Linked DNA regions of Homo sapiens: region 2 is linked to region 1. The links come from fine-mapping of genetic effects on gene expression. Tissue or cell type: aorta. Region 1 holds a variant in brackets; the other region holds the start of a gene. All regions are shown on one strand. Distances are between the middles of the regions.

The links. PIP is the estimated chance that this variant, and not a neighbour inherited with it, causes the effect.
Region 2: it holds the start of CEP104, and the variant in region 1 is fine-mapped to the expression of CEP104 in aorta (GTEx, PIP above 0.99).

The regions. Positions count from the first base shown.
Region 1 is chr1:3,772,435-3,780,434 of GRCh38, reverse strand. SMIM1 (small integral membrane protein 1 (Vel blood group)) reads right to left here and starts at 7,686. Exons shown (of 4, transcript NM_001288583.2): 1 at 7,647-7,686; 2 at 7,254-7,372; 3 at 4,952-5,136; 4 at 4,479-4,640. The coding sequence starts at 5,061. The coding sequence ends at 4,514. It overlaps LRRC47 (leucine rich repeat containing 47), which reads left to right. Exons shown (of 7, transcript NM_020710.3): 7 at 1-1,876. RefSeq lists enhancers at 4,784-4,843, 4,759-5,274, 5,423-5,567, 6,307-6,822, 6,823-7,338, cis regulatory regions at 5,471, 5,463-5,479 and a silencer at 7,400-8,000. The variant A/G (reference allele first, on the strand shown) is at 4,759.
Region 2 is chr1:3,852,306-3,860,305 of GRCh38, reverse strand. It overlaps CEP104 (centrosomal protein 104), which reads left to right and starts at 3,095. Exons shown (of 22, transcript NM_014704.4): 1 at 3,095-3,417; 2 at 7,885-8,000. The coding sequence starts at 7,899. It overlaps DFFB (DNA fragmentation factor subunit beta), which reads right to left and starts at 2,830. Exons shown (of 7, transcript NM_004402.4): 1 at 2,589-2,830; 2 at 1,462-1,588. The coding sequence starts at 2,702. RefSeq lists silencers at 1,949-1,998, 2,929-3,428 and an enhancer at 2,609-2,788.

The sequences.
Region 1 (8,000 bases):
ACAGTCATGTGCCACGTAACAGCGTCTGGGTCAGTGACGGACACTTACCTGACAGCGGATCCACAATATTCTCGTGCAGTGTGTTTGGAATCCTGGTCTGGGCTCTCGTCGTTGGCCTTGTAGATCAAGTAGGGGAAGTGAGTGATGTTCAGTCATGCTGCTGGGACACTTGGTTTTCCAGATGAAAACACATAAATAAAACTACATGCACCATCGAGGCTTGTGTAAAGACTCTGTGATCACACAGCAGCGGCTAAGCACACGTTTCTCATGTGTCACTGAGCGACACGTGACTGTCACTGGTTCGGAGACCCGAAAACTTGGGAAGCCAACCGATGTGCGTTTCCTTGAACGGCACGGTCACTTTCTATGACGCAGCATCTTGTAAAACCATATCATGCCAGGATGCAGCTTGGCATGTGCAAGGGCGTTGGGTTCTCCAGCTGGCAGTGATCATAATCTTGGGGGGAAAAGTTTTAATGTGACCTTAGAATTGGCAGAATTGCGTCTCTTCATACTGCTGTTGGATTGCTTTGTGGGGGTGGAGATGTGGAGACCCCTTCAGGCAAGCAGCCTGTAGGCTGAAGGCAGTGGCAGCACCTCACCCTGGCTCAGCGGGGCCAAGCGGAGGAGAGCGGCATCGGTGGGGTTTCCATCGTGTGCACGCTGGTGCTGCAGTGACAGGCAGGTGGAGCCCCAGGAGTGGACCAGACGCCTCTGCTTGGGAAGCATCGGCAGTCCTCAGCCAGCCGAGGGACAGATGGTAGCAAAAGCTGGAGGATGCTTAGGTTTTTGAGCCAAAAATCTTCATTTATGCGCCAGAAAGGTGGGTCCTGGGCGCCTTCTGTTGTAGACGTTTCCGTTGTGAATGTCCAGGTCAGACCCCCACGTCCATGTGTCTTCGTGTATGTCCAGGCACCACATGTGCGTGCACACCACTCCCGGGAGTCAGTGTGCTTGGCTCATGAGGACACGGCCAGCCACCGCGATGATTTTACAGACCCCACTGCCTTACGATCTGGGTGCCATGTGAGAAGCAGACTCATCAGCTTTATCGAATGACACCATTTGTTCTCTGTTCAGTGTCTCGATTTCTGTGTCTGTAGAAATGACTGGTGATTTTGGGAAGCATCTGCAAGAGCCCCACAGCCCACACACCTTTAGTTGTCAACCTGAGAGGCCCGGGGCCCTGTGCAGTGGGCAGACTAACAGCTGGGTGGCTCTTCAGAGCCTTGCAGGACATGGGCCAGGCTGCCTTGAGACCTGGACCCACTTGTCTGGTCACCGCCAGGCCTTCCCGTCTCGCCCACTGTGGGAGGGAGGGGACTCCAGACAGGACGAGGCCCACACACTCAGTGCCAGCTGGACTGCCGTGGGTGTGTCAGATGACTGCCTTGCCTTGTGTCCTCCCAAAACCTGATTCCTGCTGCTCTGGGCAGTCAAGGCAGATGCCACAGTTGGCCAGGGGCCTGCCCTGCTGGAGGCTTGAGGCGGCACGGGGGCTTCCCCAGGCCAGGACTCTGCTGGAGTTCTGGGGCTGGGGACCCCAGACAGTTGCTCTGAGAGGTGATTTGGGGCTGCCATGGCAGAGGCTGCCCTTTCTCTGCATGGCCCGGCCCAGCCCGGGAAGGAGGAAGGGAGGAAGGGAGGGATGCTGGAGCTGCCATCTTGGCTCCCGGGGACTTGGTGTCCATGCTGTAACACATCTGTCACTGCGTGGGTGTGGATGAGGCTGCCACATGCTGTGCCCTTTCCTGATGCAGCTTGTGATGCGTGAGATGCTGGAAATGTATTTAACTCGCAGCACAGGTGTCTCTGATGTTTTCTTCACCCCACCCCACCCCCCGACTCACTAATAAAAACAGCTCCGCACCTGGCCCAGCAGATCCTTTCCCACCGGCACTGCCAGAGGTTGTTGCTCGAAGTGTCACAAAGCTCACTCTAGCCCAGTGGTGGCTTCTATGTGGGGAGGCTGAGGGCCTCCTGTCCCCACCCAGATCTTGCCAGCAGGGAGCAAGAGGCACCTGCCACTGTCATGGGGAAGCTGGTGCCCTTGACCAGGGGTCCTGGGAACTGGCCTCACCCTGCTGGGCCCCTGCCTGGAGCACAAGGTGGACCAGAGGTGTCGGGCTGCCTGGATACCCCAGGTGCACAGTCAGAGGAGCCCAGGCCCCAGACGCATCCACAGCAGATCCTCCTGTTCGTGAGTCTCTGGGAGGGTAGGCCAGGCGGCCACTCAGCAGGGTCCTGTCCCATCCTCTCCCCAACCCTCCCAGAGCTGTAAGGACACTGCTCAGCTCAGCCTAGGTCCATGACCCTGGGGGTACTGGGGCTGGAGCTGCTGTCTCCACCATGGTCACTTAGGGGACAAGTGGTGTGCCCGAGAGGCGGCTGTGGGTTACTTGAGTGCCTGGCCCAATGAGCACCCGTGGGTGTCTGCCTGTAGCCTCCCCTGCTGGGGCTGGCAGGGCTGCTGGTGGAGCCCCTGGCTGAAGATGCTGGGCCCCTGCCAGGGCGGACCCAGATGCAGCCAGACAGATCCAGGGCAGACCCGACATGCGCCTGTGCCATCTGATGCCAGCCCCTGACAGGTGGGAAGGAGCATTTGTGGGGGTGCGTGGGCATCACTGGCATGCGGGACCCGTGGCAGAAGCACCAGGGCCACTTCCCCTCTGACTGTAGAACTGGGACAGCTCCCATCCCCATCCTGTGCCCTCGCCTGTCTCCTGGGCCGCACCAGTTCTTGGGGAGGCCCAGCCCCAGGACCCCCAGGTCGGAGTGCTGCCTTCTGGGGCCCATGCAGCCAAACTGCTGGGCCCAGCGGCCTCTGCCACTTCCTTACAGCAGCCCCAAGGCAGTGCTGTCCTGTGAAGCTGGGCTTCAGGGAGGGTACCAGCTGGCTACTCCTTTCCCTCCTTGGGAGTGGCAGGTCAGAGGTAGGGATCTCTTTTTGAAGATCCAGGCTGTCATGGGGCTGGGGCAGGCAGCAGCCCACCCAACAACAGGCTCCCAGGAAAGCATCATTGCTTCAGACCGCAGCCCAGGACAGGCCCTTGGGCTCCCTCCTTGGGTTTGGAGCCAGGAGCCTTGGGGCAGTGTGCAATCAGCCATGCAGCTCCACCTGCCACCGGCTGGCCCAGGCAGATCTCAAGTGAGCCTGCTCGCCCCAAAGGCGGATGATGTGGAGTCTGCCTCCCTACCAAGACTGGCGCAGCCCCTCCTGTTTACCTGACTTGATGCTTTCGGCGGGACCTGGCCTGGGGCAGGCGCAGCCTCAGCCCTCCAATAACCTCATCTGGCCCTGTGGCCTCCCTTCTCTGTGCCCGTGAGGATAGTGGCTGCCCGTGTCTCCCACCCCCAGCCCTGGGGTGAGGACCCCTTCCCTAAGGGGATGTTTCTGGCAAGGCTTTTTGGGATCTTTTGTGGTAGGTGAGGGCCAAACACAAGACCCAGGAAAGCACCTACCAAGAGAATGGAGGTTGGGACCGGGGGCTGGGACTGGAGGCCAGGATCGGGGTGGGGGGAATGGGACCGAAGTCCCTGGGACACAGCTGAGGTCCAGCCACATCCGGGTCCCCAGGCCTGCCGGCTGTCCTCGCCAGAGGGCCCAATTGGTAGGGGTGCATTCCTAGAGCCACATGGGAGGGGGGCCTGCCCCGGGGAAACAAGCCCTTCCCACAGCCTTCCTGGATGTCACGCCTGGCCAGGTAACTATGGCAAGGGCTGTCATCCACCGTTCATTCAACAGACACTTAATGCCTCTGTACACAGGCTCTTGGCCCACAAGGAGTACTTGGAGGGACCAGGCCCATCCCTGGGGAGGGAGGGTAGACCCGGGTCCTCCCTGGCAGCCGCCGGCCCCAAGAGGGACACACCCAGCCTCTGCGCGTGGTGGGCTGCCTAGGAAGAACTGTGCCCACTTACTAAGGAAGATATGGTGCATCTGAGACAAGGGCGGGGGACACATAGCCACCCTTACAAAACCAGGAGTCAGAAAGGCCCAGAGAGGACAGGGGCCTGCCCAGGGCCACACAGCTCTGCACACTGCTCCCACGGAGGAAAGCAGCCGGGAGGATCCCACCCCGGGGGGCTGCCAGGGAGGTGGGCTCGGTTTGTCCGCTGAAGGAACCCCTCATCCTGGCCTTCACAAGGGAAGGGGCTGGGCCCTGGGAGAGAGGAGGCTGTAGCTGGGGGCTCCAGGCCGCAGGGCCCAGCCTGGGTGTGTCCTGCAGCTCCTGCTGAGGCTGGGCCCAGGCCTCCCAGCCACGTGTGCCCAGCTGTTTGTAGGTCCTTTGAAGGGCTGTGTGCCAGGTGTTTGTGCGCCCCCGTGTGGGGCCGATGACAGCTGTGCACCTGGTGTCTTCGTGTGCCTGGCTGCCAGCGCGTGTGCCCTGTGCGCTGTGTGTGCCGCAGGGTCCGTGTCTGTGGGGGGGTCCATGTGTACAAGGGGTGTGTCTCCAGGCCTGTGCTCTCACGTGTGCGGCCAGCCCCCCGCGTGCATGCGGGGCAGCATTTATTTGCACTTGTGCACATAGTAGCCTGTGAGGTAGCCCAGGATGAAGATGATCCAGAAGAGGGCCACGCCGCCCAGCACCTTCATGGCGATGCCCAGCTTGCCCGTGCACAGCCTCTGGGAGATCCTGGGGTGAGAACCAACTGGAGGTGAGCCCCAGGCCAGGGCCGCATGAGGGGCCCCCTAAGTGGACTGTGGCCGTTGGTCTGGGTCAGGGGGAGGGGCCTGGGCGCTCTGCTGGAGTC[A/G]AGAGGAAGCTCTCCCCGCCCACAGCCAACCAGAGGGAAGGCCAAAGGCTGCGGTTTGCTGAGCTGCTGGACCGTGGGCTCCCAGCCAGGATGGGGTGGAGGGTGATGGGGCCGGTAGCAGGGGTTAGGGCAGGCGTCTCTGGAGGGAGACACCAGCCTGCTATGGCTGGCAGGCTGCCCTCAGGCCCCTCACCTGCGGCAGCGTGAGGCCTCTTCTGTGCTGGACACAGCCCCTAGGCTGACTCCGTCCCTGCTGCCGTCCTCCCACCTACTATAGTGGACGTGGCTCTCCTGGGGCTGCATGCTGTGGGGCTGCAGCGGGAGGGGCGGGGCCTTCTCGGTGGGGAGATCAAGACAGGTGGCCAGGCTGTGGCTTCACTGTAAAACAAGCGGATGGAGGGCGGCAGTCAAGACCCCCTCTGAGGCTGCTGTTAGGAGAGGGGCACTAAGGGTCGGGGGCTGACTCCCTCACCGGGTCTGTCGCCTGACTTAACAGGTGACCTAGACACAAAGTGGTAGAGTCATTTGCCCAGGGTCAGGCCGGGAGGATGGGACCAAGCGAGAATTCCATCTCAGGCCAAGCCCTGACCTCAGGCATGTGGGAGGCCAGTGTTTCCTTCCAGCACACTCCAGGAGCCTCCCTTCCCCGGTGCTTTTATCAGGGAGCCTGCACAGCCTGCCACCCTCAAGAGACGAGGACATTGTGGCCCAATCTAGGCTGCAGCCCCTGATAACTGTCCCCCTCCTTAACCCTGCCCGATAAGGCGCCTTCTGGCCTCTGGGGAGGCTGGCCAGGGGAGGGGGGGGTGGGGCAGGGCAGCAGGTCCGGGGCAGCGGCTGGTACAGCTAGACCGGTCCCTGTCTGGGGAGGATGCGTGGCTGGCCCCAGGCAGTGGCAGCAGCTGTGTCCTCAGCCTGTGTGGGTTGCAGCCCCTCCCCCACCCACACCTCTAGGAGGGCTGGGGCTTGGGGGGCATGATGCACTGAGCACGGGGCCGGGGTGGATTCAAGGCCTTGGGGAGGCCCTACAGAGACAGGAGGGTCGTAGGGCTGGGTGGCTGCCCAGAGCAGGAGGGGCCCGGCCCCAAGGCCAGCTCCCTGCTGGGCTCCAACTCCTGCAGACCTGGGACTCATCTTTGCATCTCGGCACTCAGCTCGGTGCCTGGCAGCCCAAGTGCCCAGAGGGGCGAGGAGACCACGGGGACTGAGCAGGAACTCCAAGCACTAGCACAGCTGCCCGGCCGGCCTGAGCCAGCCCGGACTCTAAGCACCTCCTTTACCCTCTGGCCTCTGTTTCGACCTCCTATTTACCTAAGGGGGTGTGGGGGTGGAGGAGTTGGAGGGGGCACGAGAAGTTGACAACCCACCCAGGCTGTGGGACTGGGGTCAGCTCTCTGGTCTGCTGGGCCCCCAGTGTCCCCTCTCAGCATCTGGCCCCCAGGAGTGGGGTCCTCGGGCAGGCAATGGCAGGCCCCTCACTTCTAGGAGCTGAGGCTTTGCTGGGCCCCCTCCAGCGGGGAAGGCTGACCTTCCTCCCAGGTCATCGGCACAGAGGCCTAAAGGCACAGCAGCCACTCCCCTGCAAGAAGCCAGCTCAGAAACTCAGGCCCCAGGCAGTTCTGAGACTCCCGGCACTTCCATGTCTGCCTTCCCCCAAAGCCCAGAGAGGCAGAAGGAGCTGTCTCAAAGCCATAAAGTGTGCCTTCGGTGGGAGCCCTGGCTCAGTGCAGCCTGGCACTCAGGCCCGGAGAGGCCCAGCCTCTACTGGAGTATGGGTGCTGTTTTCCCGGAGCATGTGGAGCGGTCAGCTGCCTACCCGAGGTTCACGCCCTCTTGCCTGGTGTGCAGAATCCCATTCTGGTCCCAGCAGCAATGTGCCAGCCCCAGGTAACAGCCATGACCCGGGTAAGACAAGCTTAATACCACCACCCCTGCTTTCCCAAGTCACCCAGCTGGGGTCCAGGAGCCAGGGTGCAGCAGGGGATGGGAGAGTTTGCTTCTGTGAAAGCAGCAGCAGCCACCTCCTTCTTCCAGACTCGACGTGATGGCTGGAGCTGCTGGAGCTGCAGCAGCCGCCTTGCAACCCGACATCCACGCAGCATTAGTCTCGGGAGTGCTGAGGCTCCAAGTCCACAGCAGCAGCCCACCATGGGCCTCCCGGTGGGAGGGGTCAAGCCCAGTGTGTTCAACTCTGGGATCATGGGTTCCTGTCTTGCTGACGTAGAACACGTTGTTCCCAAGTCACCCCGGTGCACAGCCACCAGAGCCGGCCCTTGAGGCTGGCCTCCCTCACTTGCTCAGTAAACGTCTCTCCACACTCATGTGATGGTCACAGGTGTGGCGGCAGGAACCCATCAGGGACTCCCCTCCAGGCCCTGGGAGGCTCCCGGATCCTGGCACCTCCTGGGGGCTTGTGAGTGCAGGAAGGCCCTAGGTACACAGGCGCCCCTCCATAGACCTCTTCACCCCACAGCGCCTCAGGGCCCCACACTTACCCGGAGAACCTTGCCTGAGGGCTGGGGCCTCTGGGCCAGGTTGCGGTCAGGGCCTGGCCAGCGGCCCGCACCTCCCAGCGGGGCAGGTCGTGGGCTGAGGTGCGGCAGACGCCTCGAGCCTAAAAAAATAAAGGTGACCGGAGAAGCCGATCTTGCTAAGGGCCGGGAAGGGAAAGTGGCTGGTGTCGGGGGTCCCCAGCAGCCACAAGGAGCCGGGCAAGGAGCCGGGCGGGCAGTTCCGGCCCTGGCCCCGCACCGCGGGTTAGGCCGGTGGGGGTCAGTCCAGGGCACGCCCCCACCCCCGCCAGTTCTCAGCCAGCGAGGCCGCGCACAGTCGCACCTGCCCACTGCGGCCGCACCGGGAAGCCGCAGCCCGGACCCCGCGCGCCTCACCTGTGTCCCCGCGTCTCTGGGCTCCGCAGGGGCCGGGCCTGGGCAGGGGGCGAGGGCGGGGGCGGGGCCACGCGGGGAAGGGCTGGAGCCAGCAGCGGGGAGGTGTCTGGTCCGGAAGGTGGCGGGGCTAGAGTGGTGGGCGGGGCCATGCGGGGAAGGTCTGGGGCCAGTAGCGGGGAGGCGCCTGGTCCAGAAGGGGCCGGGGGCGGGGCGAGAGGGGGCGGGGCGAGAGGGGGGCGGGGCCATGCGGGGAAGGGCTAGGGCCGCAGCGGGGAGGCGCCTGGTCCAGAAGGGGCTGGGGGCGGGGCGAGTGGGGCCGGGAGACGCCTCGTCCGGAAGGGGCCGGGGCTCTAG
Region 2 (8,000 bases), 80 kb before region 1:
ACAGTGAGCAAGGTTTGTGCCACTGCACTCCAGCCTGGGCAACAAAGTTTCAAAATATAAATAAAACAAAAATATTTTGGCCAGGCACAGTGGCTCATGCCTGTAATCCCAGCACTTTGGGAAGCCAAAGTAGGAGGACTTCTTGAGCCCAGGAGTTTGAGGCCAGCCTGTGCAACAGAGGGAGACCCCATCTCAATGTTTTCATAAAAGAAAAGAAAAAAAATTTTTTTTAAGTCTAACAAGGAGGAGGACTAGCGGTCTCAGCGAAGAGAGGAGGATAAAGCGCCAGAGAAAGGAAGGACAGAGAGAGAGAGAGACAGAGACAGACAGAGAGAGCCAGAGACAGAGACAGAGGAGAGAGACAGAGACTGCGAGATGCAGGGAGAGACAGAGAGAGAGCAACGTGCTCTGCTGTCTTTCAACTATGCCCTGAAATGGGAAAGAAAGATAACATCCAAAGGTGAGGCATACCCTGAGCATACCCCTGCCCAGCCCCCACCTCCTGCAGGGGCCACCCCAGGGGGCATCACAGTGATACATTTTCCAGCTGCCTCCTCTAAAAGCACAAGGCCCAGTGGAGAAAGGGGGTTTGCAACCTTGGAGCACACACCAGAGGCGTCACCCCTCAATGCTGACAGTGGAGCCCCCAACACTGTAGCCGGGGAGGTGGCCACATGGATGTTACTCTTCGACTTCTCTCTTTTTGCCCCTTAGGCCAAGGAGCCACAGCTCCATCCCTCAGAGCACCCATGTCCTTCCTGGGCTGCCAGAAGCATCTCCTGGAGCCTGACCCCATTTGCACAACACTGGCCGACCCTCCCAGGTAAAGGCACATGATGGCATCTCCTGCCCCAGTGGCCAAAAGCTCTCTTTTACGGGAGTCAAACAAGCGCAGACCTTGGCATTCGGCTGGTTCTGAAAGGCAGGACTTTGTGTCCTGAGGCTTCAATACAGATGCCCCGAAAGAACCACCTCTCAAAGCAATTGCCCCCAAACTTGAGCCCTGAGGACAGCATCTTAGCAAACACCAACCGAGAACAATGTGAGAGCATCCCACGAACCACCACCTCGTCCTTCCAGAAGGGTGCTCAGCCCAGCAGAACAGAACAGCATCTCTTCCTGGCTCCACCTTCCCCATGAAACTGTGCAGGCCCCAACCCCAAAGCCCTCCCTCTGCTCTTGGGAATTGCTAGGACACCTCAAATGAACGCAAATAAAATTAAAAGATTTTTTGAAGAAAAAGACGACCAATTGAACAGCTGGGTTCATGAACGAGAGGACTGAGGACTCTGCCACCTAAGCGACGCTGACCAGTTCTGCCTCCAGAGGGCTTCCTCCTTGAGACCCGAGAGTTCACAGTAAGGGGGACTCTTCCCCACCCTGATGGGCACCTGGAGCTAAGCCCCCAGGACCTCGGAGAGTGCCAGCTTCCCGCCCACCTCCAAAGTCCTTGCCACTCACAGCCCTGCCAGGCCTGGCCCAAGGTGAGCAGCACCAGCTCGGCGTTGTCGGGAACACTGGGGAAGTAATCTTCCGTCAGCTCCGTGCCATCCTCGTACAGGCACAGCCGGGAACCGCGCTCAGGGAGCTGCAGGGACGGGAGAAGCAACAGGAGGAGGAAGGGTCTCAAGACGAGGGCTTTGCATCTGCAGGCCTCACAAACGACCGGAATGAGCTGTGCTTAAAGAAGCAGGCTCAGGCTGCCGCCTGTATGCCACAGTCGCTCCAACGCCCAGGCAAGGATGAGGGAGCGGGAGCAAGGGCGCCTGACTGCGGGCCGTTCTAAAATACGAAGAGTCAGGAAAAACATACATCAGGGGGTGACTGCTGGCTCTGCAGGATTCACCCTTTTTAAATGAGCTCCTGAGGGCGCTTCAAATAGAGCCTGTCTTTGACAGCGCCGCCTCCCTGCTGCCAGGAGCTGAACACCACCATCCCCAGCACACAGCCGCCAGAGCGGTGCTGGCACACGAAGGAGAACGGTTGGTTGCCTCTGTGCACAAGTGTGACCGGCACGTGGCACTGTTAATTTGTTGGAGTCCGGTTCCCTGTTACTCTGCACTGGTCAGTTTTAGGCATTTTATGGCTACTCCCACCCCACCCGCACCGACCCCGGCAATGCACACCTGGTAACCCTAGTACTGGTCTAAAAAGAAAACCAACCTAGAATAAGGTGACGATTGCAATCCCCAGCTGCGAGGGCTGGAAGGGGCCTGCAGAGCCCACCTAGCCAAGCCTTTCATGTTACTCAAGGGGAAGCTGAGGCCGGACAGGCAGAGCAGCCGTGACCCCGCGTGCCAGTACCTGGCACTCTACCCGGGTCTCCTAGCTCTGATGCAGGGCTGTCCTGCCCGAGAGGTGGGAAGAGGGAAGGGGTGATCCAGGTCGTCCCCCAACCCCCCTGCGTTCTGAAGCCACGCTCAGGAACCCCAGGCTGCGGGGGCCCGGGGTCCTAGCGGCTGAGGCGAACGAAAACTACCCGCCCCGGGCGCCGCCTGCACCCTCCGTTTTGGAAGAGGAAAAGCGGCACCTCCTATTCTCCCCACACGCCTCCCCGACGGGCCGTCCCCGCCTAGCCCAGCGGGCACCTGGAAGCGGAGACAGCCCTTGCGCAGCACCTCCTGGCAGCTCCGGCCAGCCACGCCGAACTTCCTCGGGCTGCGCAGGGCCCGCAGCTTCACGCTCTTGGGCTTCTGGAGCATTGCAGATGTCCTCAAGCCCTCTGGGTCCCACAGGCGGTGGCACCTGCTGCCCAGCTGCTCAGATCCGTCCTCGCCCTGGCCGCAGGGGTCTGCACCTGGTGAGCTCTGCAAGCTGGCACAGGCCGGGTGCCGATCCCGGAAACTACATTACCCAGAAGGCCTGGGAAAAGTGAGGCCCGACGCGGTCTTGTGCGCAGGCGTCGCCCCACGGACACCACATTACCTTACTCAGAAGGCTCAGGAAAGCAAAGGCGCGACGCCACCTGGTGTGCCCAGGTGCCGTGGCCCCGGAAACTACACAACCCTGAGGGCCAGAGTAGCGGAGCCCTCCCCTTGTGCGCAGGCGCGGCCTGGGGTGGGGCGGGGTCGCGCACGCGCAGAGGCCCTGGCCCAGGGCTGGGCTTGGTTGTCATGAGAGTGGAGGCTGCGGCCGGGGCTATGGGCAGAGGTGGCCGGGTCTGCTTCTTCCCTGTCACTGCCGCAGCAGCTTGGGGTGCAAGGCGGCCTGGGGCGGCGGAAGGGGCGCCCCCCGAGTTCCGTCTGAGGAAGCGGCGGCTGCCGAGGAAGTCCACGAGAGCCGGGTCCCGCACGCCCCTGGGGTCCGGGTGCTGAGGCGCCGCCTGGCCGCCTCCCCGGGCCGCGGCACCGCTCCGACCCAGCCGCCCTCTCCACCGGGGCCGCGGCAGCGCCAGTCGGGGCCCTTCCCTCTAAGCAGGTACCTTCCGGGCCGCTGCGGCGCCGGCCCAGGGCCGGAGTGGGGAGCGGGGCGCGGGGCGCGGGGCGCGGGCGCCGCGGGGGCGCGGTCCCCACCTGGGAGCTGGGTACGAAGCCTGGGTGCGCGGTGCAAGCGCGGACGGTGTGGAGTTAGATGCCGGCCTTGCTGTCGCCGAAGAGCCGGCGCGGCCCCGTCGTGCCGTATGCCGGGGAGCTCAGCACGGGTGCTGGGACCGCCTGCCCCGGCCGGGACGGCCCATTTAGCGTGGAATATTGTTTTCAGATCCGGCTTTTCCTCTTCTGGATGCGTAGCACATAGGGGGCCAGTTTCAGATGTGTTCTGCTGAGCAAAAGTTTGAGGAAAATTGCTCTGTCCCTATAGAGATTAAAGTCTGATGGTTGGTTGTTTTTTGTTTTGGAGTTTGTTTTGTTTTGTTTGCACTTAAGTTCAGATTTCTCTGAAGCCCTTTCAGTCGCTAAGATGACTTGATCAGAAACCCATAAGCCTTTGAGACGGTCTCGCTCTGTCGCCCAGGCTGGAGTGCAATGGCACGATCTCAGCTCACTGCAGCCTCCGCCTCCCGGGTTCAAGCGATTCTCCTGCCTCAGCCTCCCGAGTAGCCCGACTAATTTTTTTATTTTTAGTAGAGACGGGGTTTCACCATGTTGGCCAGGCTGGTCTCGAACTCCTGACCTCAAGTAATACGCCCTCCTCGGCCTCCCGAAGTGCTGGGATTACAGGCATGAGCCACCGCGCGCAGTCACACTTAAAAGTCTTCTTAAAAAGAAAATCAGAGACAAGTTTTGTTTCCTAGTCTTGTAACAAAATGGAAGTTGCTACACTGAGTTTCCGTTTAATTTATAGTTAATTGCCTTTTACCATGCCAGCACTAGGAAAAGTGTAGTGAGGGATGAGACCGCCATGGAGTCATCGCTGCCTGGGGAGAGATGTACTCTGGCATTTGTCGGGATGTCGATGGCTGCCCCTGGGACAACAGGGATCCCTCATGCCTCTGGTGAGGAAGACCAGCCAATAACTGGATGTTCAACAGAGCTTTGCTTCTTCCCAAATTGTTAATGGTGATTTTTATAGAGCCTAAAAGTGGCATCCTTCAGTGACATTCCAAGTATCTTATGTAACACTTGAAGGTTTACACAGAGGGGACCCTAGGGTACAACTGGAAGGTCTTTGGGAGGGGGTAGACTAAAAAAGGAATCCTTTTCAAATACCAGACTGAGGTAATAGCATTGCCTCCACAGTCCCTGTGCATTTCTCTTAGCTGGTTCTTAAATGCCAGTACTTTGTTTTAGATTTGTTGGGGGCAGTATAGCATACTGGAAACACCCTTCTGTTTGACTGAAAAGGTCCTATATTTATGTCTTCGAGCCGTAACAGAGAGTGTTGGTTAGGTTCAGAGACTAGCCAGGCTCGGCGGCTCACGCCTGTAATCCCAACACTTTGGGACACTAAGGTGGGAGGAGTTCAAGACCAGCCTAGACAACACAGTGAAACCCCATCCCTACAAAAAAAAAAAAAAAAAGTAGCTGTGCATGGTGGCATGTGCCTGTAGTCCTAGCTGCTCAGGAGGCTGAGACAAGAGGATCATTTGAGCCCGAGAGTTCATGGTTACAGTGAGCTATGATCACGCCACTGCAGCAGTACAGCCTGGGCAACAGAGCGAGAACCTGTATTAAAAAAAAAAAAAAAAAAAAAATCGGGGCTGGGCTTATTGGCCACGCCTGTAATCCCAACACTTTGGGAGGCTGAGGCGGGTGGATCACCTAAGGTCAGGAGTTCGAGACCAGCCTGGCCAACATGGTGAAACCCCATCTCTACTAAAAATACAAAAATTAGCTGGGTGTGGTGGTGCGCACCTGTAATACTAGCTACTTGGGAGGCTGAGGCGGGAGAATCACTTGAACCCAGGAGGCAGAGGTCGCAGTGAGCCGCGATCACGCCACTGCACTCCAGCCTGGGTGACAGAGTGAGACCCTCTCTCAAAAAAAAAAAAAAAAAAATTTGGAGACTGGAACCCAACAGCCTGGGCACAAGAGGTATTTTCAAGGTGGAATAGGGAGTGACAAGCCCTGCCCTGAAAGATGATGAAAGGGGCCTGGCATGGTGGCTTATGCCTGTAATCCCAGCACTTTGGGAGGCCAAGGCGGGCAGATTGGCCAGGAGTTCGAGACCAGCCTGGCCAACATGGCAAAACCCCGTCTCTACTAAAATACCAAAAAAAAAAAAAAAAAAAAATTAGCCAGGCATGGTGGTGCATGCCTGTAATCCCAGCTACTTGAGAGGCTGAACCACAAGAATCACATGAACCAGGGAGACAGAGGTTACAATGAGCCCAGATCACGCCACTGCACTCCAGCCTGGGTGATAGATTGAGACTCTTGTCTCAAAAAAGGAAAAAAAGCTGATGAAAGGATTGGAGGGCTTCAGAGCTGAAGGGTATTAACTTTGAGCTTTGATTGTTTGGCTGGACTTCAGAATTCAGGACAAGAAGTGAGGGTCAGGGGAGAGTTGGCGCATTGATCCCTAGATGGGGAGCCCACCAAGAGCTCTGGAGTTAGGACATGGATGGAGATGACTGGAGCTGGGCCTGAGGCACGTTCACACAATAGGAACTTAGGACTTGTCTGAGGGAGGCGCTTCAGGTGGGGACACCAGGTGGTTGCTGTCTAGAAAAGACAGTGGGATCAGAAGGAAGGGCAGGCCTGATAAGACCTGGCACACTGTTGGATGGGGAGTGGGTGAAGAGAGATGCTGTGGCCAAGGGAAAAGTACCTCTAGGCTCAGAGCCCATGCGACCCAGAAGTGCCAGGTCACGAAGGAGTGGGAGCCATGGGCTGTGCGTTTCTGGCATAGGTTGCCCAGAGTGCAGGTGGGGCCGTGCAGCTAACAGTGGGTTAAATCACACTCATCCTTTCAAAATTCTTTTTTTGTTTGGTTTTTTAGAAACGGGGTCTCACTCTCTTACCCAGGCTGGTCTCGAACTCCTGGGCTCAAGTGATCCTTCCACCTCGGTCTCCCAAAGTGCTGAGATTATAGGCAGGAACCACCACACCCAGCCTCATCCTGTTCTGGGGGGCTTTTTAAAAATTATTTTCTGAGTTGGTTTAGTTTTGTTTTTGTTTAATATACAGTAACATCTTGCAGTGAACTTTGTGCAAAAAATAACTAGAATCTCGATGGTTTATCATTCTATTTTAGTGCTTTTGTTCATACATTCCAAGAAACATTAGCAATAATGCCAGCCAATAATTAATATATTGAAGTGGTCCTCTTCGAATTCTCAATGAAAGTAAAAGAAAGATCTAGATCATGCATCAAGCATGTCAAAATACGTACAGTTTTATGTGGGGGTATGTTTATATGTTACCTCCTATTGGGAATTTCAATTAATAGTATATCTTATCCCAGAGAACTTTCTGATGGAGTCTTCTTTATCCTGGTTTAGTGAGGAGCCTTTTTTTTTTTCCCCCGATGATTTAGACCTAACCCAAATTGGCTTACTTAGGAGGAATCTGACTGGCTTAGTAACTGAAAAGTAACCCAGAGTCCCTGAGCAAATTGGGCTCAATGTCCTGTGAGTCAGTCCCTCAACCTAACTCTGCATGAACCTTTTTGTACTTAATATGCCTGCCTGTCATTCCTGCTCTTCCTTCTGGTCATACACATTCATTTAGCAGTTGTTAATGCTAGCGCTTACGTTGCCTTTTTCCCCTTGGTATTGTATAACTAATTAACATACTGGTTGTATTAGTTTCCTAACTAATAGAAAGAAGTTTGTGTTTATATTCTAGACATAGCAAAATATCATAAACTAGATGGCTTAAAACACCAGAAATTCATTCTGCAGGCAGAAGTCAGATGGCTGCATGGACAGGGCTGCACTCTCGCTCTGGAGGCTGTAGGGCAGGATCCCTCCTGGCTTCTTCCTAACCTTGGGCGCCTGCTGGCCATCCTCAGCCGTCCTTGGCCGGCCCGCTTAGAGATGCGTTGCTCCGGTCTCTGCCTCTGTCACCACATGGCGCTCTCCCTTTGTGTGGCTGTGTCTCTTCCCTTCTTAGAAGTCACGTTGCATTGGGCCCACCCCGAGGACCTCATTTTAACTAGATCACACCCACAGAGACCCTATTTTCAAATGAGGTCTCCTTCACGGGTACCACACGTGGAACTTCAGCGTATCCTTTTGGGGAGCACAATCCACAGCACTGGTCAAACTTTTTGGACACATATTTGGGAAAAGTCAAGATAACTTAAATGATATCTTAAGCAGAACCAGAAGCATCTATAAAAGTGTTTAACAAAAAAAAATAGACTCTTTTCAAAGAGATGGGAAAATTCTGAATACTTAGTGCATTATTGTGTGTGTTAGCAAGGCATGAACCAACCCTTTAAATGTCCATGTGTTAGTGAATTCCTTTGTTTTAAAGAAGTTTTTCCTGCTCTTATAAACAGCCCAAACGTGCAGAATGCCCCACAAGATTGGATTTGTAGTCGTCAGCTCATCTGGACACGAAGACGGCTTCAGTGCCCGGGAGCTCATGATCCACGCGCCAACTGTCAGTGGGTGG